4 separate regions of the Homo sapiens genome follow, and all the other regions are linked to region 4. Evidence: fine-mapped expression QTL. A gene starts in region 4. Each other region holds a variant in brackets. All regions are shown on one strand. Distances are between the middles of the regions.

Region 1 (7,838 bases), 240 kb before region 4:
TATCCTCACTGTGCCTGTTTAGTTAGGGTTGGCACCTCTTAGACTGTGAGTTTCTCTGACTGTAGCATGGAATGTCTTTGTTATAATGCTCTGATGTTCTCAGATTAAGTATACCATTATAAAAAAGATACATAGACTTAGTATTATTCCTTTAATTATTGGATAAATCAGATTTCCCTCTGTCTGTTTGCTTAAAAATATATCACAGAGGAATACTTTCCTTAGATTATTCTAAACCTTTTTGGGTAAAACTTAAGACTTAAACCTGAGACTTGGATAACAGTGCCTTTATAGATATGTAAAGACCAAAAAAAAAGTCCGCATATACCATTGAACTAAATCAGATGAAATTTAAGTAAGTGAATAACATATTCTACAATAGAGAAGAAAACAGACTGTTTAGGTAAAGGCATATGCAGGAAAGCACGATGCCTGTGGCCTTGCAAAACCATATCGCCTGCATAGTTCTATGCCTGAGCTTTGGCCCTAATACTCAGGGCTCACCTTGTTCCTCGGAGGCCACTCTTCTCCTATTCCCCATGACAACTGTGCTTCACCAGGACTCGACTCTACTTAATGGTCTTGACAATTGCTACTTAAAAGGTTATAGTCCTTTTGTTTCCCTATTTATTATATTTCCTGACTTTCCATCATTTATCGTTTCCTATCTGAGATACAGGAAGGACTTGATTCATAATTTGTTTTGCCCCAAATGTTTACTACACTATGAAATTATTGGTTTGGCTTTAGAGTGAAGGTGTGGAAATAAGTGTGTATATTTCAAGTTTAAATATTTAATAAAGGCAATTTGACTGTAACCATATCTTCTCTAAATGTTACTTCTTTCTCTGTTGAGAGTTGTCTATGGCCCCCAATGAAAGACCACCTGCAGTACAACCATAGCTAAACCAAATGGAGTTTATTGACTTGTTCCAATGAGGAAGACCATATACCATGGAGAGCTGTGGGGTGACTCAATAAGAACGTGGTAGAAAGGACCCACATGATCTGGGCTTGTGTTAGACAATTTTTGAGAAGATTCAAGGAAGTAGGTTTTGCTCCAGATTGGATGCTGTTGGGAAGCAATTCTATGACTGGGTATCTTTTATAAATCTTATCTATATGGCAGGAGGAATGAAGTGAGGCTAAAGCTGTAATTGGTAAAGAAGCAGCTTTCATATCAGCTAGGGTAGGGGATGTTTAATATTTTGGGGGGTTTGGACAATGTTCTTGTTTTTGTACAAGTTCAGACATCTTTTGGAAGTGTCTTGATTTTGTCATGATCTATCAAAGTCATACAGGGGACTTGACTGATGTGGGTGTTCTGTGAAATTGTGTTCAGCAGGACAGCACCACAACCTAGCTCTGAGTGCCAGGACAGTACTGACAGCACCAGGCAAGCTCCGGCCTGTCAAGATCTGGCTTTTCTCTTCTCTTTTTCAGAGTCCTTAACAAGATTTTAGAATCATTCAGCAACCTCCGAGACTATATCTCTCCTGACACCAATGACCTTGGCTTTGAATTCCTTGCTCAGTGAATGTGCTTAGAAAATGCTGGTTGGAGAGTAATTTCTCCCTTTTCTCTGGCCAGCTTGACCTTTAGGGTGACATTTGGCTGGATAAACAAAAATATCTTAAAATAACATAAATCTAATTTTAAATCTGCTTGGGAAATCATAAACCATTAGTAAAATATGTTCTCTTGGTTCTAAATATACTTTTTTAGTTTAGTTGTCTTAATTAGCATAATTTACCGACACTAAAAATAATTTCTAGAACAAAAGTCTCTGAAAGTAGAAGTAAAAAGAGCTCTTTTCCTCTGCATTTTAGAGCTCAATCTCCCACAACTTTACTACAAACACTTTAAAAGACTTTGGTGAAGTAGTGATCCTGATTTTAATACTGAGCTATTTTATTGTTATTGTCCATTAGCTATTTGGAATTCCTACCATGAAAGTACAGTGCTGAGGATGCATACATTTCTCTTGTTTTCAGCCTCAACATTCTTAGATGATTAGCATTTGACAGATGAAACATACAATGCTTAAGATGATCTTGGTAAAGACAATAATTACAGCTTATCACATGGTTGCACTTTAAAAACCTCACAGTGAGGAATGGTCACCAGAAAATGGGGCTCCCTGTTATCAGGAAGATGAATCAGAAAAAGAAAGGACTTTGATGGCAGAGGCCATTCACTCCACCAATCAATCAATTAATCCACCAGACAATTTAATGTCTATTCGTTGAATTCCAAACTTGAGCCAGATTCATTGCTGTATGCTGGAACACCAATGTGAGAAGGAACAGAGCTCCTTCTCTCATGGAGTTTACTGGAGTAGGTAAGGCAGACATGCAAATTAATGTCTGCATAATTGCAAATGGAAGCCCTATAAAGAAAGGGAACTGGTTTCCACGAAAGCATAGAACAGTGGGACCTGAATTAGACTGGACTTTCAGGAAAGACATTCTTGGAAAAGTGACCCCAGAACTAAGAAAGAGGAGTAGGTGAGACACTTGGGGAAAGAGGGAAAGGAGGATGGCTGAAGAATGTTTCAGACAGAGGGAAGAACAGAAACAAAGGCTTTGGGGCAGGCATGAGGAGGGCTTGTGTCCTGGTGTGGGCTCCCTGGAAACAGACTCTGAAACAGAGATTTGTGGCCAGGTGTTTATCGGGTGTGCTTTCACGAATAACACCTGTAAGGAAAGGAGGAGGCTCTGGAGTTGGAGTGTCCTTTGGAGCTGCCTAAAATTCAGGCCTCTGAGGCTACTTATGGACCAATCTTCTGTCCCGAGGTGGGGGCATGACCTTAGGAGAACCAGGTGAGGGCAATTCCCAAAGTGGGACTCAGGTGTGAGCTAAGCAGCTTAAATTCCTAGCAGCTGGGGGAAATGAGTGCCTTGGGCTTGAAAGGGGAGCTGGGTGGGATGCCACACAGGGCTCTGCTGCGATGACCTGCGATGCTCTGTGGGGATGGAGGTCAGATTGCTGAAAGGTAAGTGAGTGATGGGACAAGAATCTGGAAGTGGGAGCAGGATCCACACACACAGGGCCTGGCCTCCTAAGACTTTTTAGGGATTGTACCTTAAGAGCTATTAAGGGGAATAATAAGGGTTAGGGCCAGCATGGCTTCAGAGGGATGATGCATATCCTGGGCAGGGAGATACTCTAAGCTGCAGGGCGACCCTCCTGTGTTTCTGTCTCCTTTCAAATTAGCTCAGTGACTTGTATTAATTGTTCTCAAGGATACCCATTTTAGCACTCTTTTTGCTTCTGTTTTTTGTTTTTGAGACGGAGTCTCGCTCTTTTCCCCCAGGCTGGAGTGCAATGGCGCAATCTCGTCTCACTGCAACCTCTGCCTCCCAGGTTCAAGCAATTCTCCTGCCTCAGCCTGCCGAGTAGCTGGGATTACAGGTGTGTGACACCATGCCTGGCTAATTTTTGTATTTTTAGTAGAGACAGGGTTTCACCATGTTGACCTCAGGTAATCTGCCTGGCTCGGCCTCCAAAGTGCTGGGATTATAGTCGTGAGCCACCGCGCCCTGCCCCATTTCAGCATTCTTGGTTGTTCTCCTTCAGATTTCCCAACTCAGAAGCCAGGCAATACTATCGGTGAGAGAATTAAGCATATCTGTGGCTGTGGGCTGAAAGATACTTGCTTCCTCTCAGGGTATCCAAATGCAAATGTTTAAAAAACTCCCTGGAAGATATGCTGTATTTTATTGGCCATTTCCCCACCAGTACTCAAATGTACCATGTAATATAAGAACCCTTAATCACGTGAAGCATGTTATATGTGAGACTGTCATAATTGGTGTCAACTATGTTTAGTTAGAAAGATTTTGTGTTATATGTGGCTATCTTCTGTATCTCTATCATCCCTACCCTCAGATGAAAGGGCGTTCATAATACTAACCAGAACAATCAAGTTGATTTAGTAAAACCTCATCACATGCCTGATAATCACATATCAAGCATGCACACTTTGTATTTAGATGTTTGATTTGATATTTG[G/A]TGCTATCATTATGAATCAGTCTTTCCGCTTTCATGCTGTAGCGTGTGATCTTTCAGGAACTCCTGAGAAGCCACGGAAATGATTCTTGCTCAGCTCCTTCCCCTGGAACGATGAATCATGGTAACTCATAAAAACCAGGGAGAGCTCTTGTCTGACAGTTTAATAGCTTTCCCTTTAGTCAGTCGGTGTAAGAATCTAATTTTGAGCCTATTCATTTGTGAAAAAAGGTCAGCGTAATTTCCTGATAGCTCCTGTGGCCTCTCTCCAGAATGGGCTGTCTTCCATACATGACAATGATGCTGGTACCATGTTGTGCAAAGTTCATGCTCTAAGGTGTTTTTCCCCACTGAGTCCTGATCCTAGGTCCAGATTCACAGGCACAAAACCCTCACCGGGGCATCATTCCAGACCTTCAGCTCTCTCCCTCACAATCAATCATCATGTCTGGCCAGTTCTACCCCCTGAGCAACTCTCTTCTTTCCATCTTTTCTGCCTTCACTGTAGACAAGCGTACCACCATCACCCGTTGGTTTGACTTCTGTCCCCGTCCAATTCAGACAGGTAGCCTGTAATTCCCTCAGAGGCAATTCCTCCAAATAAAAATCTGATCAGGTACTTCCCTTGTAAAAACCCTTTAGGGGCTCCCATCACCCTAGATTTTAACACGTTTATAAGCCACACTTACGAGCCTTCACCACTTCCATCTCCATGCACATTTCTAGGTTCCATTGTAAAAGGAGACTGTCCCATCTGTCTGTAGGAAAAGTCTTTCAAATGAAAATATAGCCTGGATATTGTAGGCTACTTTTCCAACTAGAAACTTTGTAGGAAGGGCTACTCTTTAGGGGAATAGTCATGATTATTTCAAACTTAAATACCTTTCCTTTGCATTGTTGAGAATAGTATGAATCATCTCTCACATGAAAGGGCCTATTGAAATTATATATTTTAATTCAACAAACCCTAATATTGTATTGATAATAAAGATAACTGAAAACCCCTAACCCTGGGGAGATTAAAATCTGTAGGTGAAATAGGGACTCTTAAACAACTAACTACAGCTGCAACTAATTCTGTATTGGAGGTATAACATGCCGTGGATGATAATAATTCATTCTGACTGGAATATCAGTAAAGACAGCATCTGATCTTGGCTTTGGAGTAGAAAGAGGTTGTTCTGGATAAATAGAATATCAAAAGAGCTTTGCTAGAAACAAAGAGTTGGGGAAGATATCCAATCATTGGCCTGGAGAGAGAAGAATGAAGAGTTATAGCAGGAAATGGTCCTGGGAAGACAGATTATACTTAGGTCAGAGGAAGCTGTAAATGCCATTCTAAGTAAGAATCACTTACTTGATAGGAAGCAAGAGAGGTTTTGAAGGTCTGTTGTGGCAAATCTGGCTTGTATTTTAGGAATGTTACCCAGCTGTGAGAAGGAATGTTGGAATAGTATAGAGATTGGAGGCAAGATAGTGAGATAGAAGAGTGAGTCAGGAAAAGTACTACAATGAAGGGGACAGGCATGGGAGATACTGAATAATTGATGAGTCTTGGCTATGGGTTGTATATAACAGTGAGAGTAAGAGAGTTGGAAATCTCCTGGTAATACTTGTCTGGGCACGGTTAACGCTTCCAAGATGACTCCCAATGATCCCCACCTCCTGGTAGTCTCATGCTCATGTCATCCCCTCCCACATTGTACCAGGATTGGCCTCATTGACCAATAATGGCAGAAGTGATGGTGTGTGGTTTTTGATATTAGGTTATAAAATCAGTGTGCCCTTTTTCCTTGGTTGCTTATTCTTGAATATTTGCTTGGGGGAAGTGGCTGCCTTCTAGTAATTAGCCCTATGGTAGGCACACGTGGTAAGGAACTGGGGCCTCTTGACAATACCCATGTGAGTGAGCTTGAAAGTCATTTCTCTAGCCCAAAGAAGTCTTTATATAACTATGGCCCCAGCTGACATCTTTTTTTCTTTTCTTTTCTCTCTTTTTTTTTTTTTTTTGAGACGGAGCCTCGCTCTGTCACCCAGGCTGGAGTGCAGTGGGGCGATCTCAGCTCACTGCAAGCTCCACCTCCCGGGTTCATGCCATTCTCCTGCCTCAGCCTCCCGAGTAGCTGGGACTACAGGTGCCCGCCACTGCACCGGGCTAATTTTTTTTTTTTTGTATTTTTAGTAGAGATGGGGTTTCACCGTGGTCTTGATCTCCTGACCTCGTGATCTGCCCACCTTGGCCTCCCAAAATGCTGGGATTACAGGTGTGAGCCACCGCACCCGGCCCCAGCTGACATCTTGACCACCACAACCTCACAGGAGATCCTGAGCCTGAACCACTCAGCTAAGCTGTTCGCAGAATTCCAACTCTCAGAAACTATGTGAGCTGAGTTTGGGGAATTTTTAATGCAACAATCAATAGAAAACTAACACACTTGGTAATTAGACAGCTCTGATTAGCTAAGGAGTACAGGTAGTATTAGGGAGTATTAGGGAGTACAGGGAAGGGAAACTGGTTTTATCAAGGAGATGACAAACTTGAATTTTGAGATATTTGGATTGTGCTATATCTCTAAGTCTGTGTTCATTAGGCATTTGGAAACAGATGTCGATTTGGAAGTCATCTGCAAGGTGTAGAATGGTGGCTCTTAAGCTGAAGCATTCATCAGAATCAGAATTTGTTGTTAAACAGAATGCTGGGCCCTACCCCCCGAGTTTCTGGTTCTGTAAGTTTGGGCCTGGGCCCACAATTTGTATTTCTAACAAAGTTGCTGGTGATACTATTTTGGGTTCAGGGACCACACTTTGATAACCACTGATGTTGAATCACTGAGAAGAAAACACAAAGTAATGACATTTATTATAACTAATAGTTCTCTTCTCTCTCTCAAGTATTATATATCTACATATACATTGTAGACCTGAAATATTTAGTAATTAAAGAACATGAAATAAATTTACATTATTGACCAAAATCAGGGGTTGGAGATTTTTGTAGACAACAATAAATTGAAACCATGTACAAGGTAAAAATTGAGTTTCCTTGTTTTATAAGGTATATATGTAATCAACACTTCTATGGATTCACAGTAGACACCTTTTCCTTACTCTCTCTGATTTTTGCTCTTAGTTTTGTATTTATGACCTGAAAATGGATTTCAGTTAATCAGCAAGCAAATATGAAAAGGAAATCCAAAAGGAACTTTAAAATATTCAATTATGTGCTACAAACAGGACTTTCATGTTTCTTCTTAGATTACTGGAATAAATCTCAAGAGATGATGCTTTGACAACCAGGAGGACTGATTACATAGATCCCACAGCAAAACTGTGGTATTGGGTGGTGCATCTCGGCAGATAGGACATAACAACCAACTAGATTAAAGGACATTTTCATAAGGAATAGCTGCTGCTCAATAATAAAGAGTTGTATTTCTTAACTCCTTTGAAAGTTCACATATACAGTATACCAATTAATTTTTGACTTACATAATTAGCTAAGTGGGGAAAGACAATGAATTGAGTTTTGTCTTCTCTCTCTCTCTCTTTCTCTCTCTCTCTCTCTCTCTACATATATATATATATTTTATATAGAGGCCCTTATGGGTTGACATTTTCTTTGCATATCCAGGATTTAGTTTAAATGTCTACTTCCTTAGCATAATGCATAAAAATGAGGACAGAGTATATAACCTCTGATGTTTCGGTAAAGAAAGCTGATCTCTCTCTAACTTGGGTACCCTGGTTTCCTAGTAACTGATCTCTTGCCTTGCTGTTTGAGATAGAGTTCCAACCTTGTTGCCTGGTGACTGTGCTTATCTAGATTT
Region 2 (7,838 bases), 20 kb before region 4:
TGACAGAGAGCAGAGCAGTGAACAAAAACTCAAAGGTGCCTGGGAGATTCAAAGCAGCCTCACCAACATGGAAGCTGACTTTAGAAGGAGCAATTTGCCAAGCTAATATGTCAATATCTGATTCTAGCAGATATCTCCTCCTTGCTATGCAGTATTTGCTTTTCATAGTCTCACTCCATTATCAGTATTAAGTAAGAAATACTATTATATGCAACACATTCCCCTCTATGCTATGGAGGAGAAATAGTCATAAAAAAGACAGGATTTGTACCTTTAAGGGTATAAAGAATACTAAGGTTTGTCAAGCTTTTTAACATACTTTATCATTTAATCCTCAGCAGTCCTATCAAGTAGGCAGTACTAGTTTCACTCTGTAAAGTCAGAAAGAGCTCACTGAGATTAAATGACATACTGTAGCCCACATAGGGCTGCTCTGATACACAACGTGTGTTACATTCAGATGATATGGTAAAAAGCCATGGTCATTTCACCAAAACACAACACATTTGAATTTGCTCTACAGCTATGGTTTTACAACTTCGGAATGCTTCTAGGTTAAAACTATAATAGATGACACAGAGGTATAATGAGATCTTATTTCTCCAACATTCAAACCACAAAGATTAATTAAACAAAACTGTATGACTTATAATCATATCTATCAGATCCTGAGATTTAGTAAGTGAAAAAACAGTTAAATTATATTCAAAAATAATTTGGGGGTTGTTGGGCATTTCATTTTTTATACTTTTTTTGAAAACTGATAAGCATTTACAGCAATTCATGGTTAAACAGAACATCTAAGAAACCAAAACACGTTTCTGGCCATTCTCGACAAGTGCCTAATGAACCTGTAAGCAAAATAACTTTTATTAGTAACTCTTCGTTATCAGTATGAGCAATTTTTACCCGGCTAATTGTTCTCATAAAGTAAAATATATTAACAAAGAACTGGATGGGGATCCTAGAACTTTAACAATGGAAGCCCATGTAATAAAATGAAACCAGGGAATCTCAATCTGAGTCCCTTAGTTAGCACAACTGGGCTGGAAATTTTACTGAGTAGTTTTGAAATTTCTGAGAAAATCTGAAGTTCTGTGGATCTCTCTGAACCCACTGCTGGTGTTAAAATCTGGCCTGTGATATTATGTATCTAAAATTAATGATTTCTCAAAATTCTAACAAGCTATATTATTGTTATTATTGGTGTTAAAATCTGGCCTGTGATATTATGTATCTAAAATTAATGATTTCTCATTAATTCTAACAAGCTATATTATTGTTAGAATTTCTCAAAATTCTAACAAGCTATATTATTGCTTTCCTCCTATTCAAAATATTTTGGTAGAGGGTCCTAGAATACATATTAACTTTATCACTTTCAAGCTTATAACCTCTTCTTTCTCTCACATTGTTCTTTACGTAGGATATAGAGTTGTGAGTTGAGGGAAGACGTGACACAGTGTCAAGAGACTGCCCGTTTCAAAATCTACACTTGACCTTCTGTTCAGTGCACTACAGGAGGGAGTGCCCAGGGCTGGAAATCAGGAGAGCCCATAACTGCTTCTGCTTCCACTTATATCTTGTTGTGTGACTGGGTAAAAAGCTGTGGTCATTTCACCAAAAACATTTAGTATTTTTATCAATACTAAATCTTCATTTGCTCATCTGTAAAATCAGGGGACTACATTACAAGATCTTCTAGTCTATCCAAATCTAACAATCTATAGTTCGAATCTAAAACTGTATTTTACAGTTCTACTTTGTTGAGAGTCAAAGACAATATCTTTGACTTATCTAAAGATAATAGAGCTAGACCGTAGTGCTACTTTCATATTATATGTATTTTATATTTTCTATAAAATTTATTTTATCTCATATCTATTCAAGAAATCATTGTTCAAAACATGATTTAGGTTTTGTAAGTAATTTCTCTTAAATATACTAATTAGTGTTAAAATTATTGCTACTTGCTGATGTGCCAAATGTCATGAGTTAGGTGATTTTATAAACACACTTATCTGCAGTGGTTGATGCAATTCCCACAAACTGGGGCAATGATACTTTCTGTAAGGATATTCTAATGTTTTATTTTTTCATTCTTGCCAATTTTAGTATTTACAATTGAGTAATGAACTATTTAATGTAAACATCAACTATATATTTACAAATATAAAAACAAATAGCCATCATTTCTGATGACAAGATTGAGAAATATGAGTATCTACTTATGCCACTCAGCAAAAGAACCAATCATCTTATTAGAAATATAAAAAAATAAGGATATATGAATTTAGATTGTGAAATACTATGCATGAATGAAAACATGTACAAGCGAGAATCCACATTTAACATCTACAGAAACAGAACTTATCTAAGCAATGAATTGTCACACCCTGAGGCTATGCCTCATGTTCCTTATTGAGGGCAGATATAACTCCTGTCTTGATAATTCATTCCAGGGGGTTATCACTTTGGGAAACATCTACACAGCTAATATCCTAATGTTGTAGTTTATTTTCTTTTTAATTGGTTATTCACTAGGAAAGTAGATATCTGAGTCCTACAGCATCTGAAAGCCATTATTATAAGCCTTCCCTTCTCCAGAATAATCCTAGTTCCTTTCACATTTTCCAACTTCTTAATCAAGCCTTATTGCTTGCCTAGAACTTCAACTCCTTCACTTCCTTCTTTTTGGTTAATTTCTAAAACCGATGCAGGAATCTCCAAGGGATCTCCACTAGTACAGAGTATAATAAACTTACTAAGTTTTAAACTGTTATTCTCCCCTTTCCTGAGCGGCACTTGCTATGCTACCTTCAACTCCCATCATGAAAACTTCCACCTGTGAAAGGAAAATTATTTTGAGAATCAGAAACTAACCGCAAATCAATTCTCTAAGACTTAGGAATACCTACCCTTACACTTTTGTATTCTTTCCTACCTTGAAAAAGGCAAACAGGATTTTAAAAGCTTTTTAAGAGAAAAGACACCAGAAGTTGGATAGGGCTCTAAACCACTCAAGTAAGAAATTTTAAACCTAAATATTCTCAAGTCTAGTTGCCAAAGAGCCTCATGCATAACTGTTTTGGGGAAACATAATTAAGAGTGTGGAAACTAAGTCACAATTTCAATCTAGAATTCCCTTAACATATTTGAGTGCTGTTGGCTTAAGCAAATGCAAACAAGACTTAAGAAGCCATGTGGCCAAGTCCACATGATTGCATTCAAACAGAAAAGAAAAGAGTTGTTTACCCTTTTAAGAACTCTATCCAGACTGGGTGTGGTGACTCATGCCTGTAATCCCAGCACTTTGGGAGGCCGAGGCAGGCGGATCACCTAAGATCAGGAGTTCGAGACCAGCCTGGCCAACATGGTGAAACCCCATCTCAACTAAAAATTCAAAAATTAGCCGTGCATGATGGAGGGTGCCTGTAATCCCAGCTACTCAGGAGGCTGAGGTGGGAGAATCACTTGAATCTGGGAGGCAGATGTTGCAGTCAGCCGAGATCACGCCATTGCACTCCAGCCTGGGTGACAGAGCGAGAGTCCGTCAAAAAACAAACAAACAAACACAACTCTATCCAAATAAAAATATCCATTCTGCTACAAAGAAATTATAGGAGATTTTGCAATAGACTTTAATGCTGTTATATTATTTTTACTATAAACACAGGTAAAAAACATCCTTTCCTCTTAGGCATCTCAGTGTCTTGCACTACCACCTTCATATAAGAAACACATATTGTCACAAAATGGCACAATTAGAAAGAATCTTAAAGATCAAGTCCTCTTAGCATTGATAATTAAAGGCCCTCTTCTGCCCACTCACTTCAACAGCATTAAAGGATTACTGATGAATGAACTGTGTGACTGCCTCCACCATAACTGGACGGTTTCAGGTTTAGAAATAGGTTCTCCATGAAAGAGTGCCTGGGAGTAATGCAGGAGTGCCTTATAAAAAGATCTGGCTTCCAAATGATGCTGGCGAAGAAAAAGGAATATGCCTTTGAGCATAGTTTTAAAGTAACAGTAAGTTAATGCAAGGCAAATTTGTTTTATTTGAAAATGCTCCAAGCTCCTATCTGT[C/T]GAAACGACATTCTTACAATTTCTTGGGGGTTTTTTGGTTTGTTTGTCGGAATTTTTTGGTGAAAACAAAATCTTAATGCTAATCACCTAGAGTATCTTTTAAAGATCTATGGTTTCCTTTCTGCACTAGAAGTTGATGTTTGAAAAGGGTAAGGACTGGAACAATTTTGCATCCATGTGGAAGGAAAAACCAGACATCTAAGATGAAGAGGGTAAACTTTCCTAATCTCTTCCCTAGGTTCTCTCTAAAGGTCTAAAAAGATCATCAATTTCAATTCCCAGGTGCCAGTCTTTGGCTGACAATAACATAGTTTCCTTTAGTGACTCTAAGAGTAGCTTATAAAAGGTGCATCTTTAGAGCAATCACAGTTGGCTCTGACAAGCAGAATTTTGGTCCACAGCAGTTTTCAGCCCCGTTCTAAGCAAACTCAGTGGCTACCCCTTTTAGCAAAGAAGACTTTGAAACACTCAAGTGCTGCACACAGAAAACATTCCCACATACCCCGACCCTTCCTCTGAGCTTCAGTGAATGAGGTTGGTCCCTGTTCAAGCTCCTGGATTTACTGTATTGGAGATCATTTATCTTAGAGGTATCTTAGAGGGGCTGTGATTACTCAGAGAATGAAAGCCAAAAAGCTCTCTCAATACAATAGATTATTTTCTCCCAAAACTGAATGTTAGTTGTTTTATAAACCAAGTTACACACCTAGATACATACACACAAGTGAAATAAAGAATAGAGAAAAATTCTAGATAATTGAAGTTTAAGAGTCCCCTTACCAATATACAAAACAATTTTCTTCAGGATATCAACATTATTTCAGAAACATGGGATTTTCTTCTTCAACTTAAGGATCGTTTTCTCAACTGTTCATTTTGCATTTCAAGGCACCTTTTGCCAAAGGGCAAAAGGTGATCCCTAAAAATTCATCTGCAAATTATTTCTGTAGTTTATGTAAAATAATATGAGATTACATAGCATCATGAAATGGTTAATGCTCAGACTCTTAGAAGTTTTCAAAAACAAAAACAGCATGAAAGATTACAGGTTACAAGGTATAAACCTCCTTTTATTCCAAGCAGAACAAATGTAATTTTGAAATTACAGAAGAGCAAAGAAAATTATTTTTTTCTGTAGTCAATGAGCTTCTAATTAAGGGCCTTTTCTCTTGGGGATTTGAGTGGAGAGAAAAGAATGAGAGGAATGAGGAGCTGTCTTGCTAAAACAGCCTACTCTATAAAATGACCTATACAATTATTTTTACAGTGAGTGTTTCACCAGAGCAGAGACCTATCTCTATCTTAATTTAAAAATGCTTATTGCAAGGAACTTTGAAATGTCCAAATAAGACATCTGGTTTATTTAACCAAGCTAAGGAAATAATTGCCTGACAAAGTCCCACTAATAAACTCTGTTAGCTCACTGGAAGAATAAACTCATTACAAAAAAATCATCATAAAAAGTCACCATCCAGGTGATCAGTCTCCCAGGTCCCTGACGTCATTCCCTGCTGTCGCTCACCTCCAGAGCCAGATGTCCCAGGAAATCCCTTGCTCTCTTCAGTCGTTTTCAGCGGCTCTGTGTGCTAAGAAATTAAGAATTTTTATTATGTGAGCTCCATAACTGACAATGTCGCAAATTTACATGCATGAAGCATAATGTCAACAAATCAAATCCTCTTTCTACTTTTTTCTGTCTGACTACTTTCTTCCACATTTATATCCAAAAGAATATATTAGAAATGACTGAATGGTCATGTGTTTCTTTCTGCCACCAGATGAGATGCTATGATAGAGATAAATCCATTTGCAAAAAGATAATAAATGTACTCCAAATGTAAATTTTTGTGTATTAGAAGAAAAGCAAAAACAATCCCAAACTGTCTAACATCCTCAAACTTCTAAAGAAAATGAAAAGAAATTCTGTCAGAAAATTTTATAGGAGAGTTACCTACCCATTGACCAGTTCATTGTAATGTGATTTGATCATCACTTCAAAGGTTAAGCTTGATAGAAAATACAAAATATCTAATGATACATATCAGAAACATGCTATTCCTTTCTGAATCAAGGAAACTACAAAGGAAAGTTTGAAGTGTCACAAGAATTAACATTTCCTTTTTTATTAATTAAAACAATAATTTTCTGGCCAGGCAGGATGGATCACACCTATAATTGCAGCACTTTGGAAGGCCAAGGTAGGAGGATCCCTTGAGGTCAGGAGTTCAAGACCAGCCTTGGCAACATAGCAAGACCCCATCTCTACAAAACATTAAAAAATTCACTGGGTGTGATGGCATACACTTGCAGTCTCACCTACTCGGGAGGCTGAGACAGGAGGATTACTTGAGCACAAGTATTTGAGGGTACAGTGAGCTATGATCATGCTACCGCTTTCTGGCCTGGGCAAACCTTTAAATAAATAAATAAAACAAAAATAAAAACACAGGTAACAGAACATTATACAGCCTTTACAAAGGCATGCTTACAAAAATTTCAGTAACATGATAAATGCTTATAATAAACTACCAAAAAGCATTCACAAACGGTAAGCTTATTTCTTATAAAAGACTAACAACAACTGACAACGTTGAGAAAGTACTTAACAAGTGATTTCTTCTTTTCTCTCTTTTCTTTTTTAGACAGAGTCTCACTTTGTCACTCAGGCTGGAGTGCAGTGTTGGCATCTCAGCTTACTGCAACCTCCATTTCCTGGGTTCAGGCGATTCTCGTGCCTCAGCCACCCAAGTAGTTGGGACCACAGGTGTGCACCACCACACCTGGCTAATTTTTTGTATTTTTAGTAAAGATGGGGTTTCACCATGTTGGCCAGGCTGGTCTCAAACTTCTGACCTCAAGGGATCCCCCCCGTCTCAGCCTCCCAAAGTGCTGGGATTACAGGCATGAACCACCGCTCCCTGCCTCTTCTTTTCTCATATAATTTGAATAAATTATTCCTACGAGGTTCTATGGGTCCCATGGCCTCCAAAGTTTTAATACTTGTCAGAATTATTCAAAACATTTTAAAAAGGAAAAAATAATCTTTTATACTCATAATGAAGGCAGTATTCACCATGTCTTCATATTCATTTTTACCTTGATGCCAACCACCTGTGATTTGTTAAAACACTAAAAATTAAAAGGAAACTAAAAATACTTACTAGCGTTTTAAATCACAACAGCTCATAATTTATTGATCAGTATTTTCAGAGATCCAGAAAGCTATGTCTGGATACACAGCTGAGTGAAGATGGCTATGGGAACCAGATTATTTGCCATCGCCAGACATTCAAGTTTTCAAACTTCAACTTTATTAAGACGGCATCATGAACGTTTCAAAACATCAAAGTGAATAAGGCCAAGAATGGGAGCAGATTATCCCCTGTCATAAATACTTCCCATCTGGCTGTTGTGGAATGCCAGCATGTTGGAACTTGCTGCTCACCTCACAGTGTCTCATTCTTTTCAGGATGGCATTGCTGACTTCCTAGCAATTGGGAAGAGAAAAATTCCAAGGCTAGGGTGGCTCTTTTTCTGAGCTAGTTAATGCCCTTGGTTTGATATGACGTGTTCCTCAGTTGAGTGGAACTGTCTTGCCCGATGCTACGGACAACTAATGAATCCCATGGAGTGCCGTCCTAATTCAATTGAATGTGACAAATTTAATAATGCCTGAGCAAATAGATGTAGGCCATGAGGAGGAGTCACAAACACAGTGTAACATCATGCCTGGCCTCAAGGAACTCACA
Region 3 (7,838 bases), 65 kb after region 4:
GTTATAGAAGCCCAAACAGACTAGGACAAGTCCTAAACAAAATATTAGCATTAGCAATATTAGCACATTAGCAATTTATTTTAAAAGATGAGATTGCCAAGTTGTATTTATTCCAAGATTTCAAGGTTGTTTGAATATCAGCAGATCAATCAACACATTGCATCCCAATAATATCTGAAAGGAGGAAAACCATATGACCTTCTTTACAGACTCAGGAAAGATATTTAACAAAATTTAATATCCATTCATGACTAAAATTCTTATCTAACTGGTAGAATTGAATGTTCATAACATGAAAAAGGGAATCTACAAAGGCCTTATTGCTATCATTTTTCTAAAAGAATATAAACATTCTCTTTAGAATCAGGAAAAATTATTATTCCTATCACAATTTCTGTTCAACATTGTTCTGGAGATTATAGACAGGGTAGTAAGATAAGGAAAAAATAAGTCAAAGAATTAAGTATTTAAAATTGAGAACAAATACTATAATTCTTTAGATGATACAGTTGAAAGTTTACACATAAAACCCACAGAATATATAGAAAAATATTAGGATATATAAGAGTTTAGCAGTGTTGCTAGAAATAAAACCAATGTAAATAAATCTACTTCATTTCTATATACCAGCAACAAATAGAAAATGTAATTTTACACTTTGGGAGGCTGAGGTGGGCGGATTGCCTGAGCTCAGGAGTTCAAGACCAGCCTGCGCAACATGGTGAAACCCCATCTCTACTAAAAATACAGAAAGTTAGCAGGGCATGCTGATGCACATGTGTGGTCCCAGCTACTTGAAAGGCTGAGGCATGACAATCACTTGAACACAGGAGACAGAGGCTACAGTGAGCCAAGATTGCACCACTGCACTCCAGCCTGGGCAGCAGAGTGAGACTCTGTCTCAAAAAAAAAAAAAAAAAAAAAAAAAAGGAAGAAAATGTAATTTTAGTGTTTATAGTAGCAACTAAGTAAAAACCATTAAAATATGTAAGCACTTTGTAGAAAAATTACAAAAGTTTATTGAAAGATATCTTAAAATACCTAAATAAGTAGAGTGATACGCCATCTTTTTAGAAAGACTCAATATAGTTTTTTAAATATCAATTATAATCTCGACTTAAAGTTTGGATAAAATTAAAATTTCGGCATAATTTTTTTTCATGGAACTTAGCAAGATGATTCTATGCACTGAATTCCAAGAGTCCGGAAAAGAGCCAAAACTCTCCTAAAGCAAAAGAGTAAGTGGAGAGATTTGTTTTAACTTCAGTAAAAAGTCATAAAGCTCTAGCAACTAAGATGAAAGTGTAATATTAGCATAGACATAGAGAATGTGTTCAGTGGAACTAAAGAGAGAAGCCCAACAACTAATCTATACATTTATGGAAACTTGATTTATGAACAAATTTGGCACTTCACCCAGCACTTTGGGAGGCCGAGGCGGGTGAATCACCTGATGTCAGGAGTTCGAGACCAGCCTGGCCAACATGGTGAAACCCTGTCTCTACTAAAAATACAAAAATTAGCTGGGTATGGTGGCATGTGTCTGTAGTCCCAGCTACTCAGGAGGCTGAGGCAGGAGAATCGCTTGAACCCAAGAGGCGGAGGTTGCAGTAAGCCGAGATCACATCACTGCACTTCAGCCTGGGTGGCACTTCAGATCAATGGGAAAATTAGGACTGTTCAACAATGTTGACAAAACCATTGTTTAACCGTGTAAGAAAAAAGCTGGATATGTACCTCATATAATACATAAAAATCAGTCCCAGGAAATTTAAAACTTACATTTGAAAGGGAAAACATTTAAACATATAGGAGAAAATGTAGATAAATGTTTATACACTCAAGTTAGAATTTATTAAAGAAAAAACAAAAATGACAAACTTAAAGGAAAATATTTATAAATTCGAAAACTTTAAAATTAAAACCTTATGTTAATCAAAACATAATAAAAACACGAAAAAAACTGGAAGATAGACTTGCAACACACATACAAAATAAAGAATTAAAATGTAGAATATATTCAGAATGGAGGTGACATTATTTTATATATTGTTTTAAAAGATTACCAGGCCAATAAAGTGCATATAGGTGCAATAGTGAAAACTGGGACAGGAGTTAAGAGGCAAGCTAGGTGAATGGTGATGGAATTTTGGACTGGGGTGGTAGAGCAGTGGAGAAAAAGGAAGCAGATGGATTCCAGATGTGTTTTTGCATGTGTGGCCAACATAACTCACTGATGAATGGTATGTGGATTTTAAAGAAAAGGAAAAAATTTGATTTTGACTCCAAACTTTTTGGCTTAATCAACTGGGTAAATGAGTTTCTATAAATAAATACATTTATTTCTATTCATGGAAAGGCCTGGGAGAGGAAAAGGTTCAGATTGAGGAGGAATATAGAGTTAACCTTTTGGCCATGTTAAGTTTAAGTTGCCTATTAAGTACCTAAATGGAGATATTGGCTCCATTACAATAGACACTAGCTGCTTTAGTTCAGACCTCAACAGAGAGATCAGACATAGAAGAATAATTTGGATGTCATTGGCCATATGTGGTGTGAGGGTATCTATTTTTTTCTCCTGTACTGTGATATGAAACAGAAAAGATTGTGATTTGTGATTCTGGAGATGAAAGACAAAGTGAAGAGGACCCCTACTTACAGGAGACATGCTGCCCCTGAACAATAGAGGCAGGAAAGGTACCGAAGAGAGCAATGTTCAGTAGAGTCCCCCAGGGCAGGCACACAGTCGATCACCTCTAGGAACAGTAATATGTGGTACTGAGTATTATTGTATTATAGATTCAGGGGATACATGTGCAGTTTGTTACATGGGTGTATTGCATAATGCTGAGGTTTGGGCTTGTAGTTAACTCGCCACCCAAACAGCGAACATAGTACCCAACAGGCAGTTTTTCAACCCTTGCCCCCTCAAATTTTAAAGCCTCTGGTATCTATTGTTTCCATCTTTATGTTCACATGTACCCATTGTTTAGCTCTTACTTATAAGTGGTAACTTGTGGTACTTGATTTTCTGTTTGTGCATTAGTTCACTTAGGCCTCTGGCTGCATCTATGTTACTGCAAAAAAATATTATTTCATTCTTTTTTATGGCTGCATAGTATTCCATGGTGCATATGTACCACATTTTCCTTGTCGAACCCACCACTGATGGTCACTTAGGTTGATTCCATGTCTTTGCAATTGTGAATACTGCTGAGATAAACATACAAGTGCAGGTGTCTTTTTGATAAAACAATTTATTTTCCTTTGGACAGATACTCAGCAGTGGGATTGCTGGGTCAAATGGTAGTTCTATTTTTAGTTCTTTGAGAAATCTCAATACTGTTTTCCATAAGGGTTGAACTACTTCACTTTCTCACCAACAGTGTGTAAGTGTTCTCTTTTCTTCATATCTTTGCCAATATCTGTTATTTTTGACTTTTTAATAATAGCTATTTTGACTGGTGTGAGATGGTATCTCATTATGGTTTTAATTTGCATTTCTCTGATGATTAGTGTTGATGAGCATTTTTTCCTATGTTTGTTGGCCTCTTGTATATCTTCTTTTCAGAAATCTTTGTTCATGTCCTTTGCCTGCTTTTTAATGGGCTATTTGTTTAAGTTCCATATAGATTCTGGATATTAGTCCTTTGTTGCATGCATACTTTTCTCATTCTGGAGGTTGTCTGTTTATTCTATTGATTGTTTCTGGTTTGTGTGTTTGTTTGTTTATTGTTTGCTGTGCAGAAGCTCTTCAGTTTAATTACATCTCATTTGTCTATTTTTGGTTTTGTTGCCTTTGCTATTCAGGTCTTAGTCATAAATTCTTTGTCTAGGCCAATGTCCACAAGAGTTTTTCCTGAATTTTCATATTTTGAGGTCATAAATTTAAGTATTTAATTCCTCTTGAGTTAATTTTTTATATGGTGAGAGGTGGGGGTCCAGTTTCATTCTTCTGTGTATGGATACTCAGTTTTCTCAGACCATTTATTGAATAAGATGTCCTTCCTCCATTGTTTATTTTTGTCAACTTTGTCAAAGACCAGTTGGTTGTAGGTGTGGCTTTATTTCTGGGTTTTCTATTCTGTTCCACTGATCTATGTGTCTGGTTTTTGTTTGTTTGTTTGTTTTTCACTATTACAATGCTGTTTTGGTTACCATAGCCATATGGTATAGTTTAAACTCAGGCAACGTGATGCCTCCAGATTTGTTCTTTTTGCTGAGGATTGCTTTGGCTATTTGGGCTCTTTGGGGGTTTCACATGAATTTTAGAATTGTTTTTTCTAATTCTGTGAAAAAATGGCATTGGTAATTTGATAGGAATAGCATTGAATTTATGGATTGCTTTGGGCAGTATGGTCATTTTAATGATATTGATTCTTCTTGTTCAT[G/A]GGGATGGGATACTTTTCCATTTGTTTGCGCCATCGGTGATCTCACTCATCAGTGTTATGCAGTTCTCCTTGTAAAGATCTTTCGCCTTCTTGGTTTAGTGTATTCCTAAGTATTTTCTTTTTTGTTTGGCTATTGTAAATGGGATTGAGTTCTCAATTTGGTTTTCAGCTTGAACATCCTGGATGTATAGAAATGCTACTGGTATTTAATAGCAAAGACTTAGAACCAACCCAAATATGCATTAATGATAGACTGGATTAAGAAAATGTGGCACATATACACCATGAAATACTACGCAGCCATAAAAAAGAATGAGTTTGTGTCCTTTGCAGGGACATGGATGAAGCTGGAAACCATCATTCTCAGCAAATTATCACAAGGACAGAAAACCAAACGCCGCATGTTCTCACTCATAGGTGGGAGTTGAACAGTGAGAACACGTGGACACAGGGCGGGGAACATCAGACACCGGGGCTGGTTGGAGGTGGGGGGCTGAGGGAGGGATAGCATTAGGTGAAATACCTAATGTAAATGACGAGTTGATGGGTGCAGCAAACCAACATGGGACATGTATACCTACGTAACAAACCTGCATGTTGTGCACAGGTACCCTAGAACTTAAAGTATAATAATAATAATAAAGAAATGCTACTGATATTTGTATGTTGATTTTGTATCCTGAAGTTTTGCTGAATTCATTTATCATGTCTAGGAGTCTTTCAGAGAAATCCTTAGGATTTTCTAGGTATAGAATCATGTCATCAGAGAACAGAGATAATTTGACTTTCTCTTTTCCTATGTGGATGCCTTTTATTTCTTTATTTTTTCTGAATTCTGTAGCTAGAACTTTCAGTACTATGTTGAATAGGAGTGGTACAAGTGGGCATCCATGTTTTGTGCCAGTTCTTAGGGGGAATGCTTGCTTCAAGCTTTTGCCCATTGAATATCATGTCAGCTGTGGGTTTGCAATAAATGGCTCTTATTATTTTGAGATATGTTCCTTCAGTGCCTAGTTTGTTAATGCCTAGTTTGTTGAGGGTTTTTATCATGAAGAGACATTGGATTTTTTTATCAAATGCTTTTTCTGTCTATTGAGATGATCATATAATTTTGGTTTTTAATTTTGTTTATGTGATGAATCACATTTATTGATTTGCATATGTTGAAACATCCTTGCATCCCAGGAATAAAACCCTCTTGATTGTGATAAATTATCTTTTTGATGCACTGCTGGATTTGGTTTGCTAGTAGTTTGCTGAGGATTTTTGTGTTTGTGTTTATCAAGGATATTGGCTTGTAGTTTCCTTTTTGTTTTGTCCTTGCCAGATTTTGGTATCAGGATGATACTGGCTTTACAGAATGAGTTAGAGAAGAATACGTCTGACTTGATTTTTTGCAATACTTTCAGTAAGATTAGTACCAGTTCTTCTTTGAACATCTGGTAGAATTTGGCTCTAAATGCATCTGGTCCAGGGCTTTTATTGTTTGGTAGATTTTTTATTACTGATTCAATTTCACAATTAATTATTGGTCTGTTCAGCATTTCAATTTCTTCCTGGTTCACTCTTGGGAGGTTTCATGTTTCCAGAAAATTATTCGTTTTCTATAGATATTCTAGTGTGTGCACAGAGATGTTCCTAGTAGTCTCTGAGGATCTTTTGTATTTTTGTGGTATCAGTTGTAATGCTAGTGCTACCTCTGTCACTTCTGAATGTGGTTATTTGCACAATCTTGTTTTCTTGGTTAATCTAGGACAATCTATCAATTTTGTTTATCCTTTCAAAAAACCAACTTCTTGTTTTGTTGATCCTTTGTCTGGTTTTTTGGCCTCAATTTCATCTAGTTTTGCTATAATCTTTGTTATTGCTTTTCTTCTGTTAGCTTTGTGTTTGCTTTGTTTTTGTTTATCTAGTTCCTTTAGGTGCAACATTAGGTTGTTAATTTGAGATCTCTTTGTGATGTCGGCATTTAGTGCTATAAACTTTTCTCTTAATACTGCTTTCATTATGTCCCAGAGATTTTGGTGTGTTGTGTCTCCATTCTCATTTGTTTCAAAATATTTTTATATTTCTGCGTTAATTTTGTTCTTTACCCAAAAGTCATTCAGAAGCAAATTGTTTAGTTTCCACGTACATCTGTTGTTTTGAGTGTTCTTCTTGGTATTGATTTATAATTTTACTTCACTGTGGTCTGAGAAGATGCTTGATATGATATGATTTCAGTTTTTAAAAATGTACTGAGATTCTCTGTAATACCAAGTGTATGGTCAATTTTAGAGAATTTTTCATAGCACAGATTAGAAAAATTATATTATGTGATTGTGGGGTGGAATATTCTGTAGATGTCTATTAGGTCCATTTGGTCAAGAGTCCAATTTAAGTCCAGAGTTTCTTTGTTAGTTTTCTGCCACAGTGATCTGTCTAGTGTTGTCAGTGGAGTGTTGAAGTCACCCACTGTTATTGGATCACTGTCTATCTTTCTCTTTAGGTCTAGTAGAATTTGTTTTATAAATGTGGGTACTCTGATGTTCAGTGCATACGCAGTGTTGAATTGAACCCTTTATCATTAAATAATGCCCTTCTGTCTCTTTTCTTACTGTTGTTGCTTTAAAGTCTGTTTTATCTGATATAAAAATAGTAACCTCTGCTGTTTTTTGTTTTCCATTTGTGTGATTGATCTTTCTCCATCCCTTTATTTTGAGCCTATGAATGTTTTTACACATAAGATAGGTCTCTTGAAGGCGGTGGAAGCTTGGGTCTTATTTCTGCCCAATGTGCCACTCTGTGTCTTTTAAGTGAAGCATTTAAGCTTTTTGTTTATCTAGTTCCTTTAGGTGCAATGTTAGGTTGTTAATTTGAGATCTCTCTTTGTGATGTCGGCATTTAGTGCTATAAACTTTTCTCTTAATACTGCTTTCGTTATGTCCCAGAGGTTAATATCGATATGTGAGGTTTGTTCCTGTCATACTGTTGCTAAGTGATAAATAGTGTAGTCTCAATTATATAATTGCCTTATATGATCTGTGTACTTATGTGTGCTTTTATGGTAGCAAGCGTCATTCTTTTGTTTCCATGTGCAGATCTCTTCTGAGTATTTTTTTAAGACTGATCTGGTAATGACAAATTCCCGTAGCATTTGCTTCTCTGGGAATGACTTTACTTCTCCTTCGTTTATGAAGCTTGTTTGGCAGGATATGAAATTCTTGGCAGCATTTTCTTTTCTTTAAGAAGGCTAAAACTAGGCCCCCAATCTCTTTTGGTTTGTAATGTTTCTGCTGAGAAGTCTACTGTTAGTCTGATGGGATTTCCTTTATAGGTAATTTTGACCCTTTTCTCTAGTTGCCTTTAAGATTTTTCCCCTTCACATTGACCTTGGATAGTCTGATGACTGTACCTCAGGAATGGTCATATGGTGAAGTGTCTTGCAGGTGTTCTCTGAATTTCTTA
Region 4 (7,838 bases):
GAATGGGTGTTTCCCATTCTGGAAACAATCCTCCTTTTAATAAAGTTTAAACATGAGGGCATTATTTCATCACTGGGCTATACCTTGCTTGGGAGAAAGGTCCCACTTTTGGGATACGCATTGTCTTGGGCACCTGAGTTGCTTCCATGTGCAAACTCCAGATCATTGTGCAGAGGGCTGTCCCAAAAAAGGAAGGAATTATTCCCAATAATAGACTATTGTTTTTGATTGGCAGCATTATTTTCTTGGGAGAACCACAACTCTATGTAATCTTGACAGAACTGCCTATCATAGTGCCCTACCAGCCTCCTCCTCCTCATCCCAGCACCAGAACCACATATACACAGGGTTGGGCACATGATTTAGTCCAATACAATCAGAGTAGCACTCTCTGCTAGACACAGAGACCAATTCAATTACCACTGAGCAGGGCCAATCAGAGCCCTTCAAGGAGATTTATAAAAATGGGACCTGGAAGAGAAAGGACCTCTTTTTCTCATAGATGAAAAGCCCAGGAATGTAGGTTTAGAAATACCCACAGTCATCTTTCTCCATATCCAGAAAGAGTGCCTCAGAATACAGCTGACCCAGAGAGAAGTGGGACTGAGAAATGGGGAGAGAGAGAAAGAACCTCGACAAAGTTGTGTAAGTCTCTGAGTTCCAGCCATGATTGAAGCAAGGACCACCTTTGGACTTTCTGGTCCAATGAGCCAGTAAGTCCTTTTTTGCTTTACCTAGTTAAATATTCACACATGCAAGCAAATGAATCCTGAGTAACTCCCTTCTACATGAACACAAAGTGGGGTGGTGAACACACAGTTGGGTGGTAAGCAGAGACTTGTCCCCCCTTGGTGCACTTCATGCTCAGAGCAGAGTGATTAGGGCTCTACAGGAAGGAATGTACAGACACTCATCTTACACCTTTCTAGATTTCTATGCCTTCTGTGGAATTTCACCTCTGGTGACAAAGTTTCCAAAGCACAACTTGCAGAACACATCCTATCAATTAATGATACAGTGGCCCCAGAATCCTCGCCTTTATATGAAATGCATGGATTTCCTTTTTCCAGCATCACTAAAAGCTCTTGGAAGAGTCATATCAATTACTCTGTGATAGTCAAAGCCCCAGAATTCCTGCTGGGGAAAGGGGGACCTTAGAGGAGGAGTGGGCACAGAACAGGAGCAGTAAGATTAAACATCAATAATCAGAATTCAAGGCATTTCAGGAAGTCTTGAGCTCGTAATTGGAGACTTCTGTGTTCCAGAATGTAACCTAAATTCTTACGCAGAAATTCAACCTCACCTAAAATCTGACCCTAACCTTATGTCTCTCTCCTGTTTACTCAGGGTTTCCAAAGTGAGCTTTAGCTTCTCCTATCTCTACAAATCCTGCAGAAAGGCAGTGGCGCATACTGGTGCAGATGTGCTTTGCAGTATTAGTCCCAGCTTCATCACCTTTCTGCTCTAATTACTTCCGAGGGTTGTTACAAAAATCTATTGCATCATTTGTGAAAATTCATGGAAAACCACCCAGTACTAAGTGAAAGCTGGTATTTTTATTATTTTATTATGTATTTTCAATTCACATAATCAATGTTAGGTCAGATGTCCCAGGCCAGACATCTTTTACTTCTCTTTGCCATTTCCCATTCAATACAACTAGCAAGACCCTCCAGCCTGGCTTCCTTCAACCAAAACCCTACAAACCACCCTCCTACACACACACACTGACTTCTGTCTCTCTTTAATTCTGCCAGAATTTGCCTTGCAGCATTTTAAAGAGAGACCATAAAGATCGTCAGTCCAAAGCCCTCATTCTGCAGATAAGGGCACCAAGGAGCAGAAAGGTGGAGGAACTTAGCCACTTACCCACAGCCACCTAATTAGTGACTCAGTCAAGATGACAACTCCCCATCCAGGTCCCTCTGCAACCCACTATGCTGCTTCCCAGTCTGCACTGGTCCCCTGCTGCTCTCAGACCACCTCAGCTGCCAGGTGATCTGTGGTACATTTATCAGTCCCCTCTCCATCAGCCTATAAGCCCATAGAAAAGGCCTGGAAGGGTAGCTAGCATGACACCACAATAAGCACTCACTGATGTTTTCTGAGTGTTTGAGCACATATCAGATCTCAGCAGACAAAACATAGCGTAAGTCCAGGAACAAGTGGATCTGCTTGATAAAACTGTAAATCAGATATACATTCCTTAATAAAATGAGGTCCATCTCATTGCAGGTTTGGATTTCTGTTGCTGCACAAGTTATTTTTCCTCTTTTAAATTCTACCCTCTATTTGATAAGTAACGTGTATGACTACAAGGGCTTATTTTTTATCCTCTACTAATTTTGCTTAAGAAATGTAAAAGTTGACATTTGCTTTTATCTTTGTTCTTATCTATCTTCCTAAGCTAAATATGAATTTCTTTCCTTTATGCTAAGAGTCATCATGAGAAGTACAGCATTTAACCAATCAGTTCAGATCCGTTCCCTCTATATGTCAGTAGTTATCCTTTTCTGGCCAATGAGCTATTGTCAAAATTCTGAAGCTACACAAGTCCAAATATAACAATCTAACTCCTGTAGTATTCAAAAGCTTCACTAAAAATTCCACTAAGTTAAAATAACAAGTACAGCCATCCCTCTTTACAATGATCTTTCCTGAAGAATCCCTTCTGATTACGGGTGTCTTCAGACACTACAGCATTTACCTAGACCTGCCTCAAAGGCAACAGGTGAAGCCTTTCTGTGCTAACTGCCTGGAATTTACCTACAGGGACTTTCCATACAACTCTAATGAAGGCTTTCCCAGCCCAGATACAAAGCTAATTATAACCAGGGTTACAAATTATAGTTACATTATCTCATAATTATGAGCTATCTAGTAGGACTTGGTTAAAAAATCATTCTAAACACCTCAGTGTGTGTTTTTTACAGTAAAAAAATCATACTGTTAAATTGTCAAAGCATTTAACTATAGTTTCCACTTAATGGAAGCATTATTTTCTGTTTAGAAGGACTTCTATTCTTCACTTGAGGTGTTTATAAAGAATGAAACTACAACTACATACTTCTGTGTAGGTAAACAGTGGGAAAATAAAGTAAGGTTTAAAAAGTTTCAAAATTTAGTCTACTTTTCACAAAATGATAATGCTTTCTAGTATCAGTAGCCAAATAACAAATTGAAGGTCTTTTTATAAGTGTTCCATAATTCAAGAAACGACAAAGTAAATAGCTTTCACAAGCTCTGGTAATATTTATGCATACAGCACTATAGAAAGTGTGCCTCAAACTTGGTTTGATTGCAAAACCGAGAGTTCAATATTCTTTCTTATAAACAAGAATAATCATCGATTCTTGAAATGTTTTCTATGCAGTTGTCCATAACTACTTCTGAAGGTATTCAGAAGAGACAAGGCAAGAGACACTTTAGTCCAACATATTTAGTTTTTAAATACACCAGACTAAGGTGGACCGGACTAAGGCTGATTCCAATTAGTCAATTACCTGTATGTGCTGCATCTGCCTTTCTCTCCGACATTACCAATGCCCGGTACTGAACAATGAATTGTTATTTAAAAAAAACACACAAACACACACACATTTTTCTAAATCAAACAGCGGTAAATACACACAGAGAGCTTGCGCCTACACAATGTGAAGTGTTGGCTGGAACAATTTATAGCAAAAGAATGATTAATGAAGCAAATCTTAGAAGCCCTCAGTCCTTTCTCTTACAGACAAGACTACAGGGAGAAGAGTAGTGCTGAATTTTGCAAATAATTGCTTTGCCTCTCCATTTTGCCTGTGTAGATTCTACCCCATCCAGATACTGCTTTACGAAACCCTGACCATACTTTGCTCAATCATGAATTAACGCTGTGGACATTACAGAGAATGCTGACTCTCAGGAACCGAGACAAAGGAGGGTGTTGCTTGGAGAAACCCAGCCAGGCGCTCCAGTACTCCGGGTTCTTGGAGGCTGCCCCGCACGGCTTCTCTCGCGCTCCCGGGACTGGGGAGTCTGGACCTGATGGCGGACTTGGTTTATTTCCCAAACTTTAGGAGAGACAGCGTTTACCTAACTCTGGAGGCTGTAGCGGAGGGGAGGGGAGGGCAGAGGGCTGAAGAAGTGCCCGGTTTCGGCTGCGGTGGCCGCCCACCCACCTCCCCACTCCCGTCAGCACCCTTTCCTTCCCCTCACCTGTCCTGAGCACCGGGCCCTGGGGGTCGGGTCGCCTCTCCCTGTTCTCAGTCCTGGTCTCACTCCAGGAGCTGTCGGGACGTCGGGCGCCTCTGGAGGCGGACGAAGAAGGCGGCAGGGTCGGGGGCGTCAGCGGGAATCTCGGCCGCCGCGGGCAGCCGCGGTCTCCCTCCCCATCCCAGGGCTCGGGCGGCCACCGCGGGCGGATGAGTCAGGCGAGGGGGCGGGTGGCAAGGGGTGCAAGCGGACGGAGGGTGGGGGCGCCCCTATGCCCGCGCCGGGGGGGCACCGGAGGCCTCGGGGCAGGGGATGCGCCGCTGCCGGTGCTCACAGAGGGCCGCCGCCATCCGGGCGCAGAGTCCAGGCGCGCCTGCCCTCGGAGGGCACCGGGCGCAGCAAGCCGGGCAGGGGAGAGGGAGTCGCCGCTCAGGCGGCGCCGCCACCGCGTCCAAGAAAGACAAAAGGGACCGGGAACGGGAGGGGAAAAGTTTTCTGCTCGGCTCCAGATGGATCCCAGCCCCAAACCTCACGCCATAAAGCCCCGAAGAGGCGGGTTGGGGGCGGGGGCCGGGGCGGACTTCCAGGGGCGTGGCTGCGCGCCTGCGACCCCGGACCGTGCCAATCTCGCCGCCGCCCCAAAACCTGTGGGAAACCCCAGTCCTGCCACCCACTCCTCCTGGAGGACGCAGACAGGATCTGCTCTGCAGGAGCCCAGGCCGGCCGATCCGCGTCCCGGCCACAAAGTTGCACTTCGAGAGCCCAAATCACCCGCAGACAAAACCCATCTTTGGGAACAAAGTACCCGCTTGCAGGCGCTCTTCCCGGGCTGGAAGGCTGGCGTGCGGAAACGGACACACCCACCCGTGGGGCCCGCCTCTAGCTACCGCGGGACCACCGGTTACCGAGCCAGGGACCCGGCTCCCCCAGTTCTCCGGAGCGGCTGGGGAGCTCCAGCCGACTCGCAGTATTCCCGGAGCAGGCACCGCAGGACCCTGGCTCCACGCCCCTCGGACGCTTTCTCCTCAGATGCCGCCCGGCGGGCCGGGGTCCCCCTGGCGGGCTGCGCGGGCGCTGCGCGAGCTAAACCAAACCTGGCCGGAAAAGACGCGGCCAAGGCCCGCTCCGTCCACGCTTCCCGCCGGCCCGGCAAGGGGTTCCGGAGAACGGCTTGGGGGGGCGAGAACCATGGGCGGGGGAAATGGAAGACAGAGGGAACTGAAGCACGGGGGTCTTCGATGAGCAGTGCGGATGTTCGACTCCAAACATCAAAGCCAACGAGAGGTTCAGGTTACTCCTCCTTGACCCCAAACATCCAGTGAGTGGAGACTGGCCTGTTCACAGAGTAAAATATGTCGTCTCTAATTCGGCAAAGACGGTGATGACTGTATATATGCAGGCCAATTCCGTAAGTAAAGTTTCATGTAAAACTAATTACCGGATATTCCAACCACCCCCTGTGCAGGCCAGCCGCATGCACAAGGTGTGTGCTATGCTTGTGTCCCCTGGATCTGTTTTAAGTGATAGAAGGCAAGTATGATATTCTGGTGCAGTGTATTTGTTTATTTCGGCGTGTGATCTGTTTATCTCGTTTTCAAGAAAAGTTTGCTTCTGGGGGGGTATAAAATCCGTGTTTGGGGGGTGGGGGAGAGCCATGCAAAAATTTCCACATTAGAAAAAAAAGTCTTTAAAATCAGATATGGCAATGAGAAGAGACTGTAGAAATGGATTTCCTGTGGTATAACCTTCTTGCCTTGACTAGAAGAATTTAGAGATTGGGCACTTTTAGTGGAGATGTCACAATCAAAATGTTTTATAAAAAGAAAGAAAAGAAAACTAAAGGAGTTACGGTGGGGGAAGGATGAGTCACCTTTATAAACCATCTGTGGTTTTATTTTTACCCCACCTGCATCTAGTATTCTAGCCCACAGCCACCTGCTCAATTCTCTTAGGTTTTCTTAAATGTGTTTGTCAAGCACCATATCAAAGGAGTGTGCTTCCATTGGGCCCTCTTCCTAGTTACCTCTACATTTTATAAAGAAACACCCTGAAGCCACATTGTCTGTAAAGCTCCTGAGAGGAAACACCTCCTGGTTCCCCTCACTATCTAAGGAGTGAGTAATAGGAATAGGCTCATAGTCCATAGATCATTTGAGGTGACATCCTCTCTAAGACCCATGGTAAAACGTTTAAAATGGTCATCTAGCCATTTTAAGCATTGAGTGACTGAGCCGTCCTCAAAAAGAGACTGATGAGAGCCATGAAAAAAGGAATAAGCACATTCTTAAGGCCACAGATATTGATGCTTCCTCATTTATGAACTATGAACTCAGATTTTAGTGATTTACCAAAAAAGAAGAAAGATAGACTAAGTAAAATCACCAAAAGGGAATTATTTAGATTTCTTTTTAAAATAATTACTATTAGTCTCAGAAGAGGCGGGTAAAATGGCCTGTAAATAGAGGATTATTTGCAATTCAGTAGTCCGAGCAACTCTCAACACATTAGTTATAAATTTTCCCTGACCTTGAGTGCTCAAGGGAATCTCAGGTAAATTATTTATCCTTACTAATGGCCAATATCTTCCCATCTGACAGTGAATATACCATGCCAGTAATGGATTTTGAATTCAGCTACACATCGGCTTTGGAAATAATGGATAGAAGTCAACTATTTTCTACTTCTCGCCATCAAGTAGCACTGCACTTCACACATAATATTTTTTGCTGTGTCTATATGAGATATGTAAATTTCCACTAGAACAAGCCCATCTTATAAGAGTGCATAGTAGAAAGAGAGTAATCCAAGTGTCCTGTAATCCAAGCTCCACCACCTACTAACAGAGGGACTTGGTACCTCATTTCTCCCATCCCTTAAGTAGGAACAAAGTATCTATTTCAAAGTGTTGTGAAAATTGAATGAAATGATGTGTATAATATTCTTCCTACAAGTCACAGATCCTCAATACATATGTGATTGAACATATATACACTCACATCAAACTTGTTTTAATGCAATTAACATCATCAAAAAAAGGCTCTTCCTCTGGAATCAAGAATTAACATGAAAAAAGGTCAAAATATGAAGATCAACATTTTCACTCTTGGTATAGTATTATAAAAGTCTGATGGATGGCAATTCATATTTAATGAATTAATTTTGGAAACATACGTTGAAATGAAAAAGAATGAGTATTCTTAAGAGGTCATGTAACAAGGCTAAGAGAAGGGCTATTAGAAAATTTGTGTGGGATTATATTCATTTCCTCTTGCCTTAAATGTAGCCCATAGCATTTTTAGGCCTGAGAAGGGATCCTTAAACAGAAAATAAAAATGTCTTCAATGGGAAAAAATAGAATTGTTTGCTAGATTTTTATCTGAATGGCTTTGTTCTTGATGTGAAATAGATTGATAGTCTTAAAACCCCTGTAGTATTTCTGCTAGCAGCCATGGGTGCTTTTTCAAAGTAGAGGGTAAAGTCAATAAAGAAAATGAACTTTCTGACTTTATTCTTGAAATAAGTAAATAGGGGGAGGAATATAGGATAAAGAAAAAGGTAGAGGAAATATATTTAAAAATAAAATTTTAAGGTCATTTTTATTTCACCGTGATTTTGAATAGCACTTTGTCATACTTTTCATG

What was found. PIP is the estimated chance that this variant, and not a neighbour inherited with it, causes the effect.
Region 1: its variant is the best candidate, but not a certain one, in a credible set for the expression of TMEM200A in fibroblasts (GTEx, PIP 0.50).
Region 2: its variant is the best candidate, but not a certain one, in a credible set for the expression of TMEM200A in whole blood (TOPMed, PIP 0.75).
Region 3: its variant is the best candidate, but not a certain one, in a credible set for the expression of TMEM200A in whole blood (INTERVAL, PIP 0.79).

What each region holds. Positions count from the first base shown.
Region 1 is chr6:130,598,752-130,606,589 of GRCh38, reverse strand. No RefSeq gene overlaps it. Among named protein-coding and RNA genes, the nearest start is that of SMLR1, 220 kb to the left of the region's middle. RefSeq lists an enhancer at 3,431-4,630. The variant G/A (reference allele first, on the strand shown) is at 4,015.
Region 2 is chr6:130,383,010-130,390,847 of GRCh38, reverse strand. TMEM200A (transmembrane protein 200A) reads right to left here. Exons shown (of 3, transcript NM_001258277.2): 2 at 5,612-5,675. Among named protein-coding and RNA genes, the nearest start is that of TMEM200A, 21 kb to the right of the region's middle. The variant C/T (reference allele first, on the strand shown) is at 4,090.
Region 3 is chr6:130,298,018-130,305,855 of GRCh38, reverse strand. It overlaps a transcript of SAMD3 not described here. Among named protein-coding and RNA genes, the nearest start is that of TMEM200A, 64 kb to the left of the region's middle. The variant G/A (reference allele first, on the strand shown) is at 4,392.
Region 4 is chr6:130,362,887-130,370,724 of GRCh38, reverse strand. It overlaps TMEM200A (transmembrane protein 200A), which reads right to left and starts at 4,708. Exons shown (of 3, transcript NM_001258277.2): 1 at 4,201-4,708. It also overlaps a transcript of SAMD3 not described here. RefSeq lists a silencer at 5,175-5,274.